3 linked regions of the Homo sapiens genome follow. The protein of the gene in region 2 interacts with the protein of the main gene of each other region in a pairwise test. Each region holds a gene or a part of one and is shown on either strand. Other genes may lie near its edges.

What was found.
Region 1: the proteins of HOMER3 (region 2) and PALLD interact in binary tests that used the Homo sapiens proteins (3 or more experiments, as listed by UniProt).
Region 3: the proteins of HOMER3 (region 2) and POLI interact in binary tests that used the Homo sapiens proteins (3 or more experiments, as listed by UniProt).

The regions. Positions count from the first base shown.
Region 1 is NC_000004.12:168,495,010-168,498,762, reverse strand, and holds the start of PALLD (palladin), read right to left. Parts: upstream 1,712-3,753; 5' UTR 1,569-1,711; intron 1-1,568. UniProt on the Homo sapiens protein: Cytoskeletal protein required for organization of normal actin cytoskeleton. Roles in establishing cell morphology, motility, cell adhesion and cell-extracellular matrix interactions in a variety of cell types.
Region 2 is NC_000019.10:18,939,757-18,943,509, forward strand, and holds the start of HOMER3 (homer protein homolog 3), read right to left. Parts: upstream 1,462-3,753; 5' UTR 1,295-1,461; intron 869-1,294; exon of another isoform or gene 95-868; intron 1-94. UniProt on the Homo sapiens protein: Postsynaptic density scaffolding protein. Binds and cross-links cytoplasmic regions of GRM1, GRM5, ITPR1, DNM3, RYR1, RYR2, SHANK1 and SHANK3.
Region 3 is NC_000018.10:54,272,367-54,276,119, forward strand, and holds part of POLI (DNA polymerase iota isoform a (long)), read left to right. Parts: intron 1-1,559; coding exon 1,560-1,724; intron 1,725-3,753. UniProt on the Homo sapiens protein: Error-prone DNA polymerase specifically involved in DNA repair. Plays an important role in translesion synthesis, where the normal high-fidelity DNA polymerases cannot proceed and DNA synthesis stalls. Favors Hoogsteen base-pairing in the active site.

The sequences.
Region 1 (3,753 bases), on a different chromosome or scaffold from region 2:
AAAACCTATTTACCAAATTTGCTTCTATATTCTCTAATATGATTTAACAGTTAGAAATTTTAGTCGAAGATACTTTGTTCAATCTTTGTTTTCTTTGCTGTAATTTCACCGGGACACAGTCATTAACTCTAGATGGCCTGAATTTCTAACTGGAGCTCAGTAATTGCAATACCCTTTGACAGCCTCCACACACATATTGTTTAAGAAGTGGAGCTCTTGTCTGGGCCTTGCAGATTCCACTTGGTATCTCTTAAAGAACTTGTCATATTTATTTTTAAACCTGAATAATGATTGCCCTCTACATTTTTAAAAAATGAGGTAAGGAGGTCAAAGTGATTGTACTTGTCCAGTGCAATCCAGATCCTCATTCTATTGTGAAATATGCTATAAGGCCAGTTTTAATATTCAGCTCTAGCAATAACAGAGAAACCCAGAGGAAGAGCTGACACAGAACCCCTGGGATACAGACCCTAATCCATACCAGATTCTAGGATGCCAGAGGACTAATTTATATTCTAGGAATGTGTAATCATGTATTTACAGGGCAGTTAGTGGCCAGATAAACCTCATCGGCCTTTTCTGCTGTTAGCAATAACTTGTCAAAGAGACTTTGATTTTAAAAATCTGAAAAAAAAATCTGAATAATTGAGGTGAGTATTCAAGTTCTTTCTGTGAGAAAAAACATTGGAAGGCACATTTATCATGAAATGAGGATTTAATTTCTGCATATATGTGATTGAATAGATTTGTAATAGTTTTATATTGCCAAGAAATGGCTTTATATGTCACCACATTATTCATACTAGAAGGCAATTAGTATTTTTAGCAAATGTTAATAAGTAATATGAGCCTGAAATCATTTTATGTCAACCTCCTATATTGGATTCAAGACAATTTCATGTGCAACTTAAAACAACATGATAAAAATTATTCTGTGATGTTTAAACTTGACTGGACTCGAGATTGCACTGTGGTTTCCCTTAGTAAGCGTTATCTTATTAAAAATATGTATGTAAATTTTATGCATGAATATAATTTAAAATACCTGCTGTTACTATCCCAACTCATTTAATTATGTCCAGTGAGTTACTTTTAGAATCTTTTGAAAGTGTAATTAACAATTTATAATGTTACTGAAATCTAAGGTCTATCACTTTAAGCCATCATCACTTATCTAGCTTAAATATGGGTGAGGGTCTAGAAAGCTGCGTTTTCCTTTTCTGTGAAACATAACACATACACGATCTTGACAAAAGCTGGCTCCATAAATACATTTAATCCTTTTGGAATTGATAGCACCATCTTAGCATGCTTAAGCTTATAACAGAAAGTGTAATTCTCTGACAGCAAAGGCAGAGATGAAGTGGGCAGGCAAATCTTACGTATTATCTGTTTTTGGCAAAACCGTAACATTCTCATTACGTTTCCTCTCCAAGCAAAAGAATAATTAAGGTATCTTGTAAATAGTATCATATCTTCAGAAAAACTTTTGTATTTTTAGTTTTTTTTTTTTTAAGTCCTTAAAATGTTGCCCTACTAGTTAGTATATTAAGATACACCTTACAGACCTTTTCAATGCTTGGTCAGTTTGAAGACTCCAGAGAGGTGATGAATTTCAGATGAGCATTTCTTCTTTTCTGGGAGAATGGAGGTTGTGGCCTTGCCTATTCATTAGAGACTGCCTGGTCCGTGGTCACTTTGAGGCAACTGTGGCCTCAGACTCTCATCTGTCCTCTTACTCCACTCAGCTATATTTGGTAACTGAGCTCATGTTTCAGCAGACTGCCACGATCAGGAATTCCAGCAGCGGGCTGGGAAGCACCCCCAGGACCGAGGGCTGGGTTCTTAGAAATAAAGCCACTTAACATAGAAGGAACTATATTTATGGATCTGATAAACGTAGGATTTAAACACATTCTTCTATACTTTGGACTTGTAGCTGGAAATCACCACCTGGACCTTTAACATGTTCTTAATCAATTTAAAGTACAGTATGTGACTCCAAGTAGAAAAAGTGATAATCCAAATGGAAGCTCTTCTTACTCTGATCTTCTGTTCTGTGCATTTAAATTTTGGTCATGTGCTAGATTACCCTAAAATAGTAAATTCAGTAACTGAAAATTTAGCCACCTGTCAAATTGAGTGGAAAGTCCCATTGTTCTCTTATTTCATATTGCTAATTAAAAATTGATATATGACTATGGTATGTATTAAAGGCCTTGTCTATAATAGTATTAAATAAGTATGAACACACAGGGACTGGATCTTATCCACATTGCAACATTGAGTTCTTAGCTCAATGCCTAGGACATCATGAGCATCTCTTAAATATTTGTCAAAGAAATAAATGAATGTTGAATGAATAATATTCAGGAAAAGTATCAACCCTCTTACAGTTGCAAAAAATGTTTCACAATCATTTAATATTTTGATCTTTCAAATGACAAATAGATATAGCAAGAGTTTAATATTTTGATCTTTTAAATAACAAACATAGATAGCAAGAAGAGAAAGCTTTTCTGTTTAAAGGTCAGGTAGCAGAATCAAATATAAGGGGGGCAAAAAGAGCAACACAAAAGCTCCCAGTTAACTTGGAAATGGGGTGCTGAGTCTTCCTTTGTCTGGGTAAGACCATCACATTTGATTCAGTTTAATATCTAAATATTTTTTCTTTTCTGATGTTAGAAAATTTGTGAAGGTCTGCTATTGTATTTTCTTTATAGGCCAAACTGGTCCTTTAGAAATGGTCCTTTCTGTGAGTGGATACTTCTGTGGGTCATTTCATCTATTATATTAATTAAGAAGTGATTTTAAAATTTATACTTACGGCTGGGCGTGGTGGCTTATGCCTGTAATTGCAGTACTTTGGGAGGCCGAGGTGGGTGGATCATGAGGTCAGGAGATTGAGACCATCCTGGCTAACACAGTGAAACCCCCTCTCTACTAAAAATACAAAAAATTAGCTGGGCGTGGTGGCGGGTGCCTGTAGTCCCAGCCACTTGGGAGGCTGAGGCAGGAGAATGGTGTGAACCCGGGAGGCGGAGCTTGCAGTGAGCCGAGATCCCATCACTGCACTCCAGCCTGGGTGACAGAGCGAGACTCCTTCTTAAAAAAAATAAAAATAAAAATAAAAAAATAAAATTTATACTTACAAGGAAATATAACTCTGATTGATTGTCTTAGTTTGTGTCATTATAACAAAATGCCACAGACTGGGTAATTTACAAAGAACAGAAATTGATTTCTCATAGTTCTGGAGGCTGGGAAGTCTAAGATCAAGGTGCCAGCAGGTTTGTTGTCTGGTGAAGTTCCTGTCTCTGCTTCCACAGTGATGCCTTGAGCACTGTGTCCTCACATGGCAGAAGGTGGAAGGGCAAGAGGGGGTCAAACTTCCTCCATCAAGCCCTAAGGGCATCAAATCCCATTCATGAGGAGTCCTCCTGAATCACCTTCTAAACGTTACACCTCCTGATACTGTTGCATAGGGGATTAGGAATCAACAAAAATTTTGAAGGGGACAAAAACCTTCAAACCATAGCATTGCTTAAACACATATTTATATCTGCTTTTTCCTAAAACCACAAGATAATAGTAAAAACTGAAAAGGGCAGAAATTGGGAGGGAAGACAATAGAAGATATCAGAAATGAACAAAATTGTTGGAAAGAGATAAATATAAGTATGCATGTAACTAAATTACAAAGCTTAAATGCCTGCAGGAGGAGATACAGAAAAGAAGCAAGTGATTCACCCC
Region 2 (3,753 bases):
TTGAGAGGTGTGTAGTACCAGGAGACCAGTTCCCCACTACACCCTGCAGAGGGACCCCACCCCCAGCAGCTCCCACCCTAGGGCAGAAGCACACCTTGAAGTCCAGAGTCCAAATCCCCAGGGAGCCCCCAGCCAAGTTAAAAAGACAAGATGTAGACAAACAGCCAATCCCAATGCCCACCATGAGGGCAGAGCAGAATCCACACTGGGAGACCAGGGCTCCCCAACCTCCCCATTGGGCCATTCAGCAACCCCGAATCTGCAGGGGACCAAGGAGGAGTTTGGAGGAGGGGGAAGACAGGTGGGGGAGGGGAGGCCCTGGCCCAGCGGCCTCTGTGGTCAAAGGGGGGATGCCCCCCCTATCCTGTCCTGGGCAGCTGCTGTCCTGGTCACAGGGTCTGAAACCGGAGCCCCTGAGTGGGGGTGGGGCGGCAGCTCTGGCCTGGACTGGGGGCGGGTCCTGCGCCGGGTGGGAGTTGGGGAACACAGGGGTCCCCGGAACCCAGGCCCTTCCGGTCCGGCAGCTCCTGCTGCGACTTGCAGCGTTTGGGGAAAGTTACTCACCAACTAGTCATGCGCCTCGGATGCCGCCGGCCACGGGGCTCCCGGAGGGGGGTCCGACACCGCCCGGTGCCCGGGATCCCCAATCTGGCCGGTGGATGAGGCCCCATCCCATGCACCCGAGTGCGGGGGACGGGGGGGTTAATATTAATTCAGGATCCCATCCCCACCCGAGGCAGGACACCCAGTGCACGCCCCAACTCCGGGACGCGGGCTCTGACCCTGGAACTTCCGAGATTCCCGCGACGCCCCCTGTCTCTGGGTCCAGAACTTCGGGGGACACCTCTTCTGCCTCCTCCAACCCCAGGTCGGTAACTCCGGGGACTCCCTTCGTGACTCCTCCTCTAACTGGGTCCGGGACCCCGGTCCTCCGCGTTGTCCTAGACTCCTAAACTTCGAGGACCCCCTGCCACCCCTCCAGTCCCTGGGTCCGGGACGTCCGGACCCCTCCCACCCCAGTACCCCACCCCAGGTCCGCAGCTTTGGGGACCTCTTCGCAGCCTCCTCCAACGCCGGGTCCAGAACTTTGGGAACCTCCCACGCAGTCCCCTCTCAGACCCTGAATCCAGAACTTCGGGACCCCCGCGCTCCCTCCAGCCCTGGAACTTGGGGACCCCTCGCGCCGCTCCCAGTCCCGGGTCCGAAACTTCTGGGGAACCCCCACGCCCTCCCCTTGGCCCTGGGACTTCGAGGCCCCCGCGCTCCCAGCGCAGGCTCGGCAGGCCGGGCTCACCCTGCCAGGTCGGCGCCCCGCGAGTGTCCAGGCGCGAGTCGGGTGCGGCCCCCGCGGCGCTGACTCCGCGCTGCCGGGCGCCCCGCTCGCTCCCTGGCTCCCGGGCCCGCGCCCTCCGCGCCGCCCTCCACGCCGCCCGTGCCTTTGTCTGCGCCGCCGCCGCCCGCGCCGCCTCCGGTCCCATCGCGGCCGGTCCCGACGCGGCCGCCGCCCGCCCCGCCTCCCCGGGCCGCCAAGGCCGCCCCGCTGCGCCCCCTGCCGGCTTTTTGCACTGGGAGAGGGTATGGGGGAGGGGATAAGGGGGAGGGGCGGGGGCCGGGACTGGGGAAGGGACGGAGGATTGAGGGAGGGGGTTAGGGGCGGTGGAGGGGGAGTGGGGGGGGGGGTTGCGTGGGGTCGGGTTGGGAGCAGAGGGTGGGGACAGAGAGACAGACGGAGAGGGACATCTGGGATGAGAAAGAGACCCAGAAACAGAGACACGGGGGAGACAGGCGGAGAGATAGGAAGCAGATGGAGAGAGTTGCACGGACAGCGATGTGACCTCACCCTCCTGTCACCTTCTCAGGAGACAGCTGCCTCTGTCCCCACTACCTGAGGTCATAACTTTGGGCCTGTGAGGGAGGTCAGGTCCCTCCCGGGCTGACATGGGTGGCCCAGTGAGGTTGGGGAGGGGGCAGTGGGTCTCAGGGTCTGCATACAGTAAGTGCTCAATGGGTGTTGCCAGGAAACGGAAGAGATCAACTTCGGGAGGGAACGGGAAGCAAGACAAAGAGAGAGAAGCCTCTGTTCCCCTGCCCGTCCCATCCCTAAGCAGGGACGTCTGTCCACCTCTGTCCCTCCCAAGACGATGGTAAAAATGCCCACAATGGTTGGATTAAGGTTATCTTTGCTGTTGTTTGAGGGTTCCAAAATCCAAAGGCTGAGGAAATGTCTCCAACGCATGGTTGCATCCCCTCAGCCTCCACTGGCCTGCGTTTGTCACCTCTGGTCACAGGGAGCACCCCCTTCCCACACTTGCCAGGAGAGCATCCTTCCGGAGTTGAACTAGGATCCACCTCCCCAGCCCCAAGCCCATGTGTCCCACTTGTCAATCCTGGTGCCGCCCCCTCTCTGGCACCGTCTCCAAAATCACACGGTGCGGCGCCGTTGGTTCGTTTGTGGACAGAGGTCCTGCAGCTCCCTGGAACCAAGGCCTGTGGCGCCCTAAAGCTCTGATCTTACATTTGAGTTTTTCTTTTCTTTTCTTTTCTTTTTTTTGAGACAAAGTCTCACTCTGTTGCCCAGGCTGGAGTGCAGTGGCACAATCTCGGCTTACTGCAGCCTCTGCCTCCCAGATTCAAGCAATTCTCCTGCCTCAGCCTCCCGAGTAGTTGGGACTACAGGTGCATGCCACCACACCTGGCTGATTTTTGTATTTTTAGTAGAGATGGGGTTTCACCATGTTGGCCAGTCTGGTCTCGAACTCCTGACCTCAAGTGATCTGCCCCCCTCGGCTTCCCAAAGTCCTGGGATTACAGACGTGAGCCACCACACCTGGCCGACACTTGAGTGTTTTGACAACTTCAGAGAGGCTTTTGCTTTTCATCTCCAAGACCTCTGCTCCTGTCTCCTTTCCCTGTTCCTTTATTTCTGTTTCCTTCTAAGAAGAATAGTATATCTGAGCTGGCGGTTACATTACATTCAAATTACCTTTAGGTGAATTCCAGGTCAGGTTGTTTTTGGAGATTGACTCCTGCGCCAAGATCTGAGTCTTCCCCCATCCAGGCCTTTGCCCAAACTGTTCCTTCCACCTGGAATGCCCTCGCTGCAGGCATCTCTTCTGCCTTGTCCTTCCAGGCTCAGCGCCACCACCCTGTCTCCTCCTCCAGGAAGCCTCTCTGACTACCCTGGCCTTGGAAGGGATCTTGCCCTCCCCTGTCCCAATCCCTGTGACTCTTTTTTTTTTCTTTTTTAAAGTTTATTTTTAGAGACGAGGTCTCACTATGTTGCCCAGGCTGGTCTCAAACTCCTAAGCTCAAGTGATCCTCCCACCTCGGCCTCCCAAAGTGCTGGGATGACAGGTGTGAGCCCAGACCCTTTCTGTGACTCTTATGTTACCTGTTTATTACATGACCAGGTCTGGGTGCTCCTCTAGGGCTGGCCCATCCATCCTGAAGCCCCAGTCTGACCCAGCACAAGAGCGACTGTTCATCCCACAGGGGAAACTGAGGCACAGACTCGGTTTCCCTGGCTGCTTCTAACTTCACGAGGCATCTGCACAAGGGAAGGATTTGGCTCTGTTCTCAGGCCGGAAGCCACGAAATGCTTGAACATTGTGGGGAGCAAAGAAAATACCGTCTGTTCTGTGCAAAAAATGACTTTTCCTTATTACCAACAAAATAATGGAAAAAATAAAAAAGTATCTGGGAAAGGTGCTGGCATGGCCAAGGCTTCTGGAAGCTGCTTAGAGTTTGCCAAGT
Region 3 (3,753 bases), on a different chromosome or scaffold from region 2:
GCTTAATAAAAAAACTGTAATTAAGTACGAATGAATGATTATTGGGAAGTGAGGGATATGAATGCTCCATGTTTTTGGGGGAAAACGAAAGTAGTCTTTCATTTTGTTTTTGTTGTTGTTGTTGAGAAGGGGTCTCACTCTGTAGCCCAAGCTGCAGTGCAGTGGTGCGATCTTGGCTTACTGCAAGCTTTGCCTCTGGGGCTCAGGTGATTCTCCTGCCTCAGCCTTCCAAGTAGCTGGGACTAGAGGTGTGCGCCACCATACTCGGTTAATTTTTTTGTATTTTTAGTAGAGACGGTTTCACCATGTTGCCCTGGGTGGTCTCGTATGCTTGAATTCAGGCGATCCACCTGCCTTGGCCTCCCAAAGTGCGGGGACTACAGACGTGAGCCACCGTGCCCGACCAGTAGTGACATGCAGTGATGAGGCCATATAATGTAATGCTCTATTAAAGGACTCCTTTTTTTAGTTAAGAAATCTAGCAATCTGATTTTTTATGTAGTTCACTGAGGAATCTCAAATTATTATTACCTTTGGTTCCATGATTATATTTTTGGGCATTACCTGATATATGAAAAAACTTTATATAAAAATAATGTTGTTTATGATATCAAAATTTTAGAAACAATGTCTAATAGAGAAGTGGACATAACCTTTTTTTTCTACATGTTTGTATTTTACATATTTTAGGTGAACATTACTCTTACAGTGGTAAGCAAGTAGTCAACTTGTATAAAAAAAGAGCAAATAATTTTTAGCAATCTTGAGTCACCAATAAACTAGAATTTTTTATGCAGTCTGTAAATAAATGATCATAATTTAATCATTTTTGATAGAACAGTTCAATAAGTAGTACATAACTGTTAGATCCCTAAAAATTGCTGTAGCCCAGCACTTGTTTTATATATTTTATATACATATTATATTTTATATTGCTTTATATTAGCAAGTTACGGAGAAGAGAAGTTGAGTTTTTCTAGCAGCAACCAGTATTTAGTTGTACTCAATTATTTTCATCCGTTTTTTTTTTTTTTGGTAGAACATGCCCTATTATATGGCAGTATAAATTAATCTGCTTTTATATTGTCTGGAAAAAAATCCTAGAGAGATTTGATTTGTATCTTATCACTGAAGATTCCATAGAATATATTGATTTAGGTTCATTTTTAAATTTTAGAAATGTAATACATAGATTGCCTTTTGTATATGAATAATTGATCTATCGTCTAACTTTTAATTCTGTGTTATTCAGTGTTTTGTTATTTAATAATAACTTTCCTTCTTCAAGGAGACAAAACAACTAGAGATTAAAAGTGGGGTATGGAAAAATAATACATTGGTATATTATAATTCATAATTAGGAGATAGCTTGAAAACCTAATGTTTCTGCATTATAGAGATTTGATATATGGAGGCTATGTTTTTTAATTGAGACAGGGCTTTTGATTCTTATCAAAACTGATTGTCTTACAATTTAGACAAATGTAATACGGAATTAATAATATCTTTAAATGTTTTCTTCAATTGTGCTTGGGTTTCTCATAAAATATTTTTTACAGGGGTTCAACAGAAATATTTGGTGGTTACCTGCAACTATGAAGCTAGGAAACTTGGAGTTAAGAAACTTATGAATGTCAGAGATGCAAAAGAAAAGTGTCCACAGTTGGTATTAGTTAATGGAGAAGACCTGACCCGCTACAGAGAAATGTCTTATAAGGTTACAGGTACAAATGATAAGCAATGTACTTTTAGCATTAATTTTTATGTAGGATGCCTGTTCATTACATGAATTTTTTAATAAATGTAAAATAACATAAGTCAAGATGCTTTTTCCTAATAACTTCTTATTTTGGGTCTTGTCAACTTTAAAAATTATGTGAAAGGATAACTGTATGCTATGAATAGTATTTTTAAGAAGATGTATAGTTGGAAGTAATTTTAACTCTTATTATTGATGTTTATATAACAGGGAAAAGTGGAAAACAAAGTTTAAAAGTGAGAAAATGGGAAACTGTACTGTAAAAGATGCCAGGTCTTTAAAATTTTAAGTTTAAATGAATTACGAAGAAATATGTTGTTTTCTAATGCACTAATGATAATTGAAAGAGGCTTCTGTAACATTTGATCAACATAATTAAAAACTGATTTCTTATGAAATATTAATAAAAATATTGGATATATTAATATTTTCTTAGGTTTTATATATATACTAAATATTACAATGTAGCTAAACTTTCCTATGCTAAGGTTTGGGTTTAAATCTTAGTGTTATAGTAAATTACAGGAAAAATGAAAATGAGTGTGCACTGGCACATTGCAAATATAGTAGGTTGATGCAAAAGTAATTGTGGCTTTCACAATTACTTTTAATTGCGAAAACCGCAATTACTTAATATATAGTGTAAAAATGTATAATGATCAGCTTTGCAATTATTTGTCTTTTTTACTTTTTTTGTTTTTCTTTTATGATAGCAATTTTCAGATGACTGGATTAAATGTCTATAATATACAAAGACCTCTTAGAAATTAACAGGAAAAATAAACCTAATAACAAAGGACAAAGGATATGAATAGGCAGTTGACAAGAAGAGCCTAACCCAGTGTCTAACAATTATAGGGAAAAAATGCTCAAATTCATTAGTGGCCAAGGAAATTTGAATTAGTAAGATATTTTATATCTGTCATACTTGCCCAAAATTAAAAGCAATGTGAGAAAAAAGTATCAAGAACACTTACTGAGTTTAAAGATGAATGTTCTTCAATCCAGTGATATCATTGCTGGGAGTTTATCAAATAGAAATAAAATCATAAGGCTGGGTATTGTGGCTCATACCTGTAATCCCAGCACTTTTGGAGCTGAGGTAGGAGGATTGCTTGAGCCTAGAAGCTCGAGGCTGTGAGCCGTGATTGTGTCATTGCATTGCAGCCTGAGTGCGCATGACAGAGTGAGACTCTTGTCTCTAAAAAAGAAAGAGAACCACAAGTACATAAAGACATATGTACAACAATGTTTATCATAGCATGGTTTATGATTGTCAAAAGTATGGAAGGAAAAATGCCCATCAAGAGAAATAGCCAAATAAACTAAAACATCTGTATAATGGATATTATATAGCCATTAAAAAGAATTCATTGGTGCAATACTATTTGACTGATGGAGATAGGGCTTGTTGAGTGAATAAAAGGCAAGGTACAAAGTCATGTATCATGTTTTTCCAAATGTGTAAAATTATGGCCTAAATGCCTCCTCTCATATTCATCATATAGATGAAGAAGAGTAAATCATTGTTTTGATTTGCAGTTTTCCATGAGTAAGGTTGAGTATTTTTTCATATATTTTTGGTCATTTATGTATTTTTTTCTGTTAACGTATTCACTTGCACCTGTTTTTAATTTGGGTTGTTCATCTTTTTCTAAGTACTAAGTACCTAGTACTTTTTGTGTTAGGTATTTTTTGAAAAAAGTTACTTTATCAATTTTTCTCACAGTATTTTTCTGAGTTGAAGTAGGCGCGTAGCCAGTTAGTCCTTTACTGTATTTATCTCTGATCTGTTTATAACCTTATTATTTATTTCATATTTTGATGCTACTGCATATATACCTTTCTTCAAGGTATTTTTTTTTTCTGTAATTACAGACTCCTCTTTTGGGCCCTATATAATTATATGTTTAATAAATGTATCTTGCTTATGAAGTTGATACCAAGAAAGAGGTTAACTTCAGGAATGGAGGCTGGGCATGGTGGCTTATGCC